Regions from separate parts of the Homo sapiens genome. Here region 1 is reported to be linked to region 2. The links are microRNA targets in miRTarBase. Many come from high-throughput screens and were not tested one by one. Region 2 holds a microRNA gene; the other region holds the end of a gene's coding sequence.
The links. Region 2 holds the annotated microRNA hsa-miR-6883-5p (AGGGAGGGUGUGGUAUGGAUGU, at 1,467-1,488, shown strand). A microRNA usually pairs through its seed, bases 2 to 8, with sites in the 3' UTR of a target mRNA and lowers its output. Matches are read on the target gene's strand: a 7mer-m8 pairs with bases 2 to 8, a 7mer-A1 pairs with bases 2 to 7 and ends in A, and an 8mer does both.

Region 1: miRTarBase lists SHISA2 as a target of hsa-miR-6883-5p. Seed matches in the 3' UTR shown: 7mer-A1 at 1,412-1,418 and 7mer-A1 at 1,544-1,550.

Annotation. Positions count from the first base shown.
Region 1 is chr13:26,042,320-26,047,389 of GRCh38, reverse strand. SHISA2 (shisa family member 2) reads left to right here. Exons shown (of 2, transcript NM_001007538.2): 2 at 324-2,793. The coding sequence ends at 877. Among named protein-coding and RNA genes, the nearest start is that of SHISA2, 7.2 kb to the left of the region's middle.
Region 2 is chr17:8,141,461-8,146,532 of GRCh38, reverse strand. It overlaps MIR6883 (microRNA 6883), which reads left to right and starts at 1,462; the gene lies at 1,462-1,539. It overlaps PER1 (period circadian regulator 1), which reads left to right. Exons shown (of 23, transcript NM_002616.3): 16 at 31-161; 17 at 396-575; 18 at 1,540-1,782; 19 at 2,657-3,267; 20 at 3,698-3,884; 21 at 4,075-4,264; 22 at 4,578-4,728.

The DNA.
Region 1 (5,070 bases), not on the chromosome of region 2:
CTGTCTTAACCTGTTAAACCCATACTTTTGCTAAATCGGATATCTGGCTCAGTCAGTCTTGCAGTTGACAAGTTGAACTAAATATTAACAGTTTGCTTCTAGGGGCTGACCTGCCATGCCTGTAGGGTCTTAGGACCTTTCTAAGCACTTGATAAAGAATGGTGCATCTTATGGACTCCTAATATGTGAACAAATTAGCCCAGTGTAGGTCCTTCAGCTGTGGGTATCAGTGTTGCTCATTCATTCATTGCCATTGCCAGTTGGCGATTGGTACTGTGTTCCTAGAGTAGATCATAATGTTGTGTTTCTGTCCTTTGCTTCAGTGCCCATCTACGTGCCGTTCCTCATTGTTGGCTCCGTGTTTGTCGCCTTTATCATCTTGGGGTCCCTGGTGGCAGCCTGTTGCTGCAGATGTCTCCGGCCTAAGCAGGATCCCCAGCAGAGCCGAGCCCCAGGGGGTAACCGCTTGATGGAGACCATCCCCATGATCCCCAGTGCCAGCACCTCCCGGGGGTCGTCCTCACGCCAGTCCAGCACAGCTGCCAGTTCCAGCTCCAGCGCCAACTCAGGGGCCCGGGCGCCCCCAACAAGGTCACAGACCAACTGTTGCTTGCCGGAAGGGACCATGAACAACGTGTATGTCAACATGCCCACGAATTTCTCTGTGCTGAACTGTCAGCAGGCCACCCAGATTGTGCCACATCAAGGGCAGTATCTGCATCCCCCATACGTGGGGTACACGGTGCAGCACGACTCTGTGCCCATGACAGCTGTGCCACCTTTCATGGACGGCCTGCAGCCTGGCTACAGGCAGATTCAGTCCCCCTTCCCTCACACCAACAGTGAACAGAAGATGTACCCAGCGGTGACTGTATAACCGAGAGTCACTGGTGGGTTCCTTTACTGAAGGGAGACGAAGGCAGGGGTGGATTCTCGAGGTGGAAGTCCGCACATGTCGGTGGTATTTATGGCACGATTCCTTTGGATGGCTTCATTTGCCCCCAGACTGTATGAAAACATCTCCGAATTAGCATTTCTGGATATGTTTCATCCAGGGTATCATTGATTTATGATGGAAAACCGGCCTCAGCTGGAGATGACTGTGATGTTGCTGATGGGTGTATAACAAATGCTTGAGTCCGAAGTGCCCTTGAGATATGGTTGACGAAAGAATTTTATAAACTGATAAATTAAGGATTTTTATTATGTTGTTATTATTATTTCTTTTTTGTTGTTGACTGCACAGGATCAAAATGCCTGTTATCTCCCTTTTACCTGGGACTTTTTTTTTTTTTTTTTTTTTTTTTAATCAGACAGGGTCTTGCTCTGTTGCCCAGGCTGGAGTGCAGTGGTGCGATCTCGGCTCACTGCAACTTCAGCCTCCTGGATTCAGGCAACACTCCTGCCTCAGCCTCCCACGTGGCTGGGATTACAGGTGCCTGCCCCCATGGCTAATTTTTTGTATTTTTTGTAGAGATGGGGTTTCACCATGTTGGCTGGGCTGGTCTCACTCTCCTGACCTCAAGCAATCTGCCTGTCTCAGCCTCCCAAAGTGCTGGGATTACAGGCGTGAGCCACCGCCCCCAGCCTGAGCCTTTTTTTTTTTCTAATGCATCCAAGGTTAAGGGGAAGACGCAAATAACAGGACTATTCTAAAAGGAAACCTGTTTGAACTCTGTGAGATCAGTCATCAGTCTCAGTATTCCACAGGCACACCTTAATTTCATTGTAAAAAGATATATATATTTTGTCTATTTTTGTGCTTTTGGGGGCCTATTTTGTGCTTTTTTACCTTATGTAGAGATCTTATTACAAAGTGATTTTCTACATTAAAAAGAGACTGAAATAAATTGTATAGTTACTTAACTAATGAAGACATTTCAGAACTCTGGGATGATTTTAATCTTGAAGTAGTAGGTGGTATAGTCATAAAACCATTCATCCCCTTCTTGATTGTATCTTAATTTTCTGGCTTTAAGGTGACATCTGAGAGGTAATGCATTCTTTTTTATATTGAAATCATAAACTATCACCCGCTGCTTCTCTGAGTTACTTTTAATTTTGCCTTGTGGTTATGGTTTGGCGTTTCCTTCTGTTTGGTTTTCAGAGCCCCATGTCTATATAGTCCTGAGTGCAAGTAATTACTATACTTGTAAATGAAGATCAGTATTTCTGCCTAGATCTGATAAAAAAATTTTCTTGTCTTAGTTATAAAAATTCAAAGAAATGTGTTACAAAGATACTTAGTATAGCTCCTCAGCCATAACCTGAGACTTGGGATGAAATTTAAACCAGATACGATTTACTTTGCAGATCATAAGGCTTTTTATACTCTTGTTATCAAAATGGCTTATTTTTCAGGCACTAAGGATTGTTAAGAGAAAAGCTTTTCAACGAAGGATTGCCTTTCTTCTCCCACACTGTTCTTGATTTCCTCTCTCTTTCAGGCCTCAACAGGCACTGTATTCATTGCCAATGTTCCAAATTATCAAATTCAAGTGAATTTATTTGTGTGTTCTTTACTTATATAAAAAAAGATAACTTTAAGGATGTGCAAGTACATTTCCAACTGCTAGCACAACCAGTATTTTGTAATTAAACAAATCGCTGTATGGTATGGTCTTCTACACATTTATGTCTATAGATATCTATCGATCATCTTTCTATTCTGTTTCATGACTGAATAATGTAAAACCAGTGTTGGCAATTGGTATCATCAATGATACTCATTTTTTAATAACCAAAGGCAGGGGAAAATCATTTTACTTATTAATAAATATTTTATGATGTGAATTCCTAGCGGAGTTGGGTTTCTTTTTTCATTTTCATTGTACTTGGTAATTTTTCAGATGGTCTAGTCAACCCTGTTAATAGAATAAAATTTCTAAAAATTATGAATGTTGCTTTCTAGAACCAAGAGCCTATTTTTCAAAGTAATATCTGGGAAACTTACGTGAATGTTCTGAGTCAGTGAGTATTATTTTACAGGTTGACATGTTGACAACACAAAAGAAACAGTTCTTTTGGAATCATTATATTATGAGGCTAATGGGTGTTCCCTGTATTGTCTTTGATGGTGGATTCCTGCTTACCTCTGGAAGTGGAATTCCTAGAACTTTGGAATTTAAAGGGATCTCAGATGTCACCCAGCCTAAAGATTGGCAAGCTTTTTTTTTCAGTAAAAATCCAGAGTCTGGCTGGGCTCAGTGGCTCACCCCTGTGATGGCAGCAATTTGGGAGGCCAAGGCGGGAAGATCGCTGGAGACCAGGAGTTCCAGTCAAGCCTGGGCAACATAGCGAGACCCCATCTCTACAAAAAAAGAAAAAATAAATAAAAATTAGCTGGGCGTGGTGGCGTACTTGGTAGTATCAGTGATTTGGGAGGTTGAGGCATGAGGTTCACTTGCAAGCTCAGGAGTTGGAGGCAGCAGTGAGCTATGATTTCACTACTACATTCCAGCCTGGGTGACAGAGTGAAAACCTGTCTCCAAAAAAATAAGAAAAAAAGATCCTGAGAGTAAATATTTTAGGTTTTGCCAGCCATATGGTATCTAGCAGCCATTCACCTCTGCAGTAGCAGCACAAAAGCAGCCATACATAGATACACATAAACAAATGAGCAAGTCTGTATGCTCATAAGACCTTTTTTTTTTTTTTTTTTTTTTTTTTGAGATGGAGTCTCACTCTGTCGTCCAGGCTGGAGTGCAGTGGTGCGATCTCGGCTCACTGCAAGCTCCGCCTCCCGGGTTCACGCCATTCTCCTCATTCTCCTGCCTCACTCAGCCTCCTGAGTAGCTGGGACCACAGGCACCCGCCACCACGCCCGGCTAATTTTTTGTATTTTTAGTAGAGACGGGGTTTCACCGCGTTAGCTAGGATGGTCTCCATCTCCTGACCTCGTGAATCGCCCCCTCCGCCTCCCAAAGTGCTGGGATTATAGGCATGAGCCACCACGCCTGGCCAAAACCTTCTTTATATGCACTGAAATTCAAATTTCGCATGATTTTGACATGTCACAAAATAATCTTCAGTTTTTTTCCCGAAAACATTTCAAAATGTAATTGTAAGCTCCAGTGCTGTACAAAAGCAGGCAGTGAGCAGGATTTCCCTGGCAGGCTATAGTTTGTCAGTCCCTCATCTAATCCTCCTTTCCCCTATGCAGGAGTCACCTCTGTGGACATTTTTGGCACTCTTTTTTAAACAGGGATGGAAAATGCTTGCTTTTCTTAGCATGAGATTGTATAGTTCTTCTATGTGGTAATTAAATACCATGATTAAAGCAAAAAAAATACACCTTAATGAATGAATTTTTCATTTAGTGACTGCTACTTGGTTTTCCAAAAGTATAACATTATTAGAAGCAACCTCAGATCTTTTCAGTTTTGGTAAGAGCTGGAAAAATTTAGCTGACAAAGCAAAAATGTTCAACTACCTGTTTTAAGGACACCTTCCTTATCATGAAATATAAATCAGAACCTATAAAGGGTAATTTGCACCTTGTAGAAATATTCCAAATTCTGTCATTTGCAGATAGAAAAATAGTTTGCTGCTGTACATTTTCTGCTGTATCTAAACCTCTAGTGTCGGTTTATGATAGTTCTAGGGGATTCCATTTCCTGCTTATAGGACAGAGAAGCAGACTCTGACTGCAAAGAAGAAAAAATTAGCTCATTGTGTCTATGAAGAGCGTGAAAACTACGCATCTGTCATTTCTGCTGCCACTGGAGAAGTTAAGATTTAGCAATAAGATCAACATCCAAAGTGGCAAAAATACCATTAAGAAAAGTGTGTTTTGGTTTCGCGTATTTCCTCTGCAACACGCACTTTCATGTAGCCTTCCATTTCTGATTACATTCTCATAAGCTTGACTAATGAAATATTTCATCTATTAAATTGACCTTGAGCTCATTCTTTTAAGATTGCAGTTTTATTTCAAGAGCTCTGTAACCCATATTTTCTCCTTGTTTTGTTATAAATGCTGATTTTTGTTTTGTTTTGTTTTGTTTGAGACAGGGTCTCATTGTGTCACCCAGGCTAGAGTGCAGTGGTACCATCATAGCTCACCACAGT
Region 2 (5,072 bases):
TCTGATGCCCTGTGCTGTGTCCATCCCCAGGTACCTGGAGAGCTGCAACCTCCCCAGCACCACTAAGCGTAAATGTGCCTCCTCCTCCTCCTATACCACCTCCTCAGCCTCTGACGACGACAGGCAGAGGACAGGTCCAGTCTCTGTGGGGACCAAGAAAGGTAAAGATCCAATGCACCCTGCTCCCACTGCCCCGTCCTGGCCTGGTGGCCCTGTGTCTTTTCCCTTCTGCTTCTGGGCCCTCTTGCTCTGCCCTGCTCTCCTCCCCAGCCTCCTGGTCTCCAGACTGTTCCCTCTGTTCCCTACCACCATCCCCTTCCCCTTTTCCCTGGGATCCTCTCTCCTGACTTCCCAGTGGGGGTGGGGATGGTAACTGGCACCATCTCTCTGCACAGATCCGCCGTCAGCAGCGCTGTCTGGGGAGGGGGCCACCCCACGGAAGGAGCCAGTGGTGGGAGGCACCCTGAGCCCGCTCGCCCTGGCCAATAAGGCGGAGAGTGTGGTGTCCGTCACCAGTCAGTGTAGCTTCAGCTCCACCATCGTCCATGTGGGAGACAAGAAGCCCCCGGAGTCGGGTATGGGTGTGGAATTGGGGGGCAGTGCTTGGGCTCCACCGGTCTCCCAGCTAGAGCTCCCTCCTGCCTTTCCCCTCCCCTCTAGGGCCTGATGGAGAGAAGGAGGCCTCCCTTGACCTGGGGCTTGGGGCTACTGCTTCTTGCTCTCCCCTCCCTGCCAGGCTTCTCGGCTTTGCCCTTCCCCTGTTCTGCTTCTCGTATTGTTACTGTCAGTTGAAACACAGAGTCTGGGATAGAGGGTTTGCCCTGAGGTGCTGACCACACAGGGTCTGAAGGCAAGGAAAATTGAACATCCCTGAAGGGTCTTTGGATATTGACCTTGAAAATCATGAGGGGCTGGGCATGGTGGCTCAGGCCTGTAATCCCAGCATTTTGGGAGGCTGAGGTAGGAGGATCACCTGAGATCAGGAGCTCGAGATCAGCCTGGGCAACATGGTGAAACCCTGTATCTACTAAAAATGCAAAAATTAGCCGGGCGTGGTGGCGCGCGCCTGTAGTCCCAGCTACTCGGGAGGCTGGGACAGGAGAATCGCTTGAACCCAGGGGGTGGTGGTTGCAGTGAGCTGAGATCGCACCACTGCACTCCAGCTTGGGAGAAAGAGTGAGACTCCATGTCAAAAAAAAAAAAAAAAAGAAACAAGAAAATGTGTGAGGGAAGGCCAAGGGGTGGGCTTCTCTTCCAATGAGAGTTGTGACGGGGTCATCCCAGTAGAGTTCCTGGCAGGGAGTGGCCACTGGAGGGGCCTGAGTATCGTCTCTTCTTCTGGGCCAGCTTTGCATGGAGAGGAGGACCCAGGGCCAGCCGTTGGCAGAGAGGTGACCAAGAAACGTACATGGAGACCAGGCTTGGCTGTGGGGCAGAGCTGCCAGGGGTTGGCTAGGCTATCAGACAGGGAGGGTGTGGTATGGATGTGTTGACCCCTGAAGTGGTTCTGATGACCTTTCCCTATCTCACTCTCCTCAGACATCATCATGATGGAGGACCTGCCTGGCCTAGCCCCAGGCCCAGCCCCCAGCCCAGCCCCCAGCCCCACAGTAGCCCCTGACCCAGCCCCAGACGCCTACCGTCCAGTGGGGCTGACCAAGGCCGTGCTGTCCCTGCACACACAGAAGGAAGAGCAAGCCTTCCTCAGCCGCTTCCGAGACCTGGGCAGGCTGCGTGGACTCGACAGCTCTTCCACAGCTCCCTCAGCCCTTGGCGAGCGAGGTAGCCACCTGGGGCCTCCTGGAGCCTGCCCTCTGCCCAGTCTAGGACTGGATTGTTGGGGGGTGGGTCTTAAGGGAGGTGTTTCTGCTCCAGGGACCCAGGCTGGTGTTGCTTCCACCACTAGGCCCTGCCTAGGGACAGGCCCCTCGCTAGCTTCTCCCCACTAGGATGGGGTTCCGGGCTGCAGCCAGAGGAGGGCAGCCTGGGGGGATGGCACTGGGATGGGCAGGCAGAGGTGCTGTCTCCAGGTAAGCGACTTCAGGCCTAGCCTGGGGGCAGGGGCAGGAAGTATGCCCACTTAGGAGTCAGTTGTCACTGATGAAGAGACATGCATAGATTCTGGGCCAACTCTGGGTGGGGTCTGGGCTTCAAGGGCAGGTGGAAGGCAGCCCCTCCAGGTGCCTGAGGGAGATCCCCTGCAGGCAGACGCAGGACTCAGGACTGGGCTTTCCAGCCCCACTCTTCACTCCATTGCAAGCTAGGCAGAATACGGCCTCGATGGGCAGGAGGAATGCCTAGGCTGGCAGTGCCCACAGGAGTTTGGCGGACCAGAGCCATCTGTCCATGTGTCCATGGACTCACCCTGCTTCCTCCATCTGCCAGCATGCCTCCATCTTCCGCACACCCCCAGCTCGACCCCTCGTGTAACCTCTCCCTGGCCTTGTTCCTTTCTCAATAAATCCCCTTGTCCCTGGCTCCTGTGATTCTTCCCTGAAGGTGCCCCACCTCCTGAGTCCCCCGTTCTGTGTGGGTTGAGAAGCTCTCTCTGGGACCTTGGCCTGTCCTCTCCCTGGTCAGCGTGTCAGGGCAGTGTGGGTAGCAGGGGTACTAACCCCAGGTTGAGGTCCTTGCTAACCCTAGTCTCTCCCCACAGGCTGCCACCACGGCCCCGCACCCCCAAGCCGCCGACACCACTGCCGATCCAAAGCCAAGCGCTCACGCCACCACCAGAACCCTCGGGCTGAAGCGCCCTGCTATGTCTCACACCCCTCACCCGTGCCACCCTCCACCCCCTGGCCCACCCCACCAGCCACTACCCCCTTCCCAGCGGTTGTCCAGCCCTACCCTCTCCCAGTGTTCTCTCCTCGAGGAGGCCCCCAGCCTCTTCCCCCTGCTCCCACATCTGTGCCCCCAGCTGCTTTCCCCGCCCCTTTGGTGACCCCAATGGTGGCCTTGGTGCTCCCTAACTATCTGTTCCCAACCCCATCCAGCTATCCTTATGGGGCACTCCAGACCCCTGCTGAAGGGCCTCCCACTCCTGCCTCGCACTCCCCTTCTCCATCCTTGCCCGCCCTCGCCCCGAGTCCTCCTCACCGCCCGGACTCTCCACTGTTCAACTCGAGATGCAGCTCTCCACTCCAGCTCAATCTGCTGCAGCTGGAGGAGCTCCCCCGTGCTGAGGGGGCTGCTGTTGCAGGAGGCCCTGGGAGCAGTGCCGGGCCCCCACCTCCCAGTGCGGAGGCTGCTGAGCCAGAGGCCAGACTGGTGAGCACTGACCCCTGCGTCTGCCTGCCAGCCCCCACCCCAGCCCCGCCCCTCTGCCACCCTGTGCTGCCTGCTGTCTCTGCCAGGCTGGCGTCTCAGCCTCCAGGAGGTGGAGGGAGTCCCCAGCTGAATTTCTGAATGAGGCAGAAATTGGCTACCTCCTCTTTGAAGGGACAGTCCTGTCTGTCTGACAGGTGGTGAGGACATCTCAATAACTTCTGAGAGAGCATCTGTCACTTGGAAAGGGTCTGGCCTCACATCCCCACTCTTCGCCAGCTTTCTTCTCTCTCAGCCTGGCCCTACTGTCACGAAGTGGGGAGCAGAGACCACTGGGGTTGGATGTGCCTCTCCCCACAACCAGTAAGAGCAGTTGAAGGGAGGCCTAGGTGCTGACCCCTCCATCCCTCCTTGCCCCCCTCCCCTCCTCCAGGCGGAGGTCACTGAGTCCTCCAATCAGGACGCACTTTCCGGCTCCAGTGACCTGCTCGAACTTCTGCTGCAAGAGGACTCGCGCTCCGGCACAGGCTCCGCAGCCTCGGGCTCCTTGGGCTCTGGCTTGGGCTCTGGGTCTGGTTCAGGCTCCCATGAAGGGGGCAGCACCTCAGCCAGCATCACTCGTGAGTACCCCGCCTCCAGCATCTCCCAGGGTAGGGCAGTGATTGGGGAGCCGGGAGCCCAGGCCCCGTCTTGGCGGAGCTTCCTAAGGCCACTGGGATGGACATGTGGCCTTTGAGGGAGGCCTTGTGAGGTCCCAGGAGTGGGCATGCAGCCGGCCTGACTCCCATTGGTCTGCCCCCCACTTCACAGGCAGCAGCCAGAGCAGCCACACAAGCAAATACTTTGGCAGCATCGACTCTTCCGAGGCTGAGGCTGGGGCTGCTCGGGGCGGGGCTGAGCCTGGGGACCAGGTGATTAAGTACGTGCTCCAGGATCCCATTTGGCTGCTCATGGCCAATGCTGACCAGCGCGTCATGATGACCTACCAGGTGCCCTCCAGGTGAGGCATTTCAGAGGCCTTCTTGGCCTTCCTTTCAGAGGTAGTAGTGGGGGCAGTTTTCTTTTCTGGGGCTGGCTCTGCCCTGGATAGGATAAACGTTTCTATCTTTCTTCCTGCTCCTTGGAGCCCTGTTACTAGTTCCTCCCAGGAGGAGAGCAGGTTTCCTGGTCTTGGAAGCCTTGACCTCGCATAGCACTAGTTTAGGGGAGGAGCATGAGGTGGGAAGCTGTGGTAGAGGAAGGATGCCAGCTTCATGGGTCCTGGTCCGGGTCCTGGATCCCAGCCTCTGCCTTCTGAACCCCTTCTTGGGCAGGGACATGACCTCTGTGCTGAAGCAGGATCGGGAGCGGCTCCGAGCCATGCAGAAGCAGCAGCCTCGGTTTTCTGAGGACCAGCGGCGGGAACTGGGTGCTGTGCACTCCTGGGTCCGGAAGGGCCAACTGCCTCGGGCTCTTGATGTGATGGTGAGAGAAGCCTGGGACGGGGAGAAAAAAGAATTGAGCTCAAGTTCAAGGGGGAGAAAAAAGAATTGAGCTCAAGTTCAAGGGGGAGAAAAAAGAATTGAGCTCAAGTTCAAGGGATCGAGGCCAAGAGCTGATCTCCTTGATGTCCTTGGATCATTAATTCTGAAGAATGTTGATTCCACTAAATTTGCTGTGGATTATAGAATATTAAGCCGCGTGAGTCTTTGCAGAACTTTTCACAGCCTATCCTATGCTAATATGCATTGTGACTGTCCTGTAACGGCATCTGGGTAGAGGGCACAAGGCACTGTCCAACCTTGTTGGACCGCAGGTGCATCTGTGTG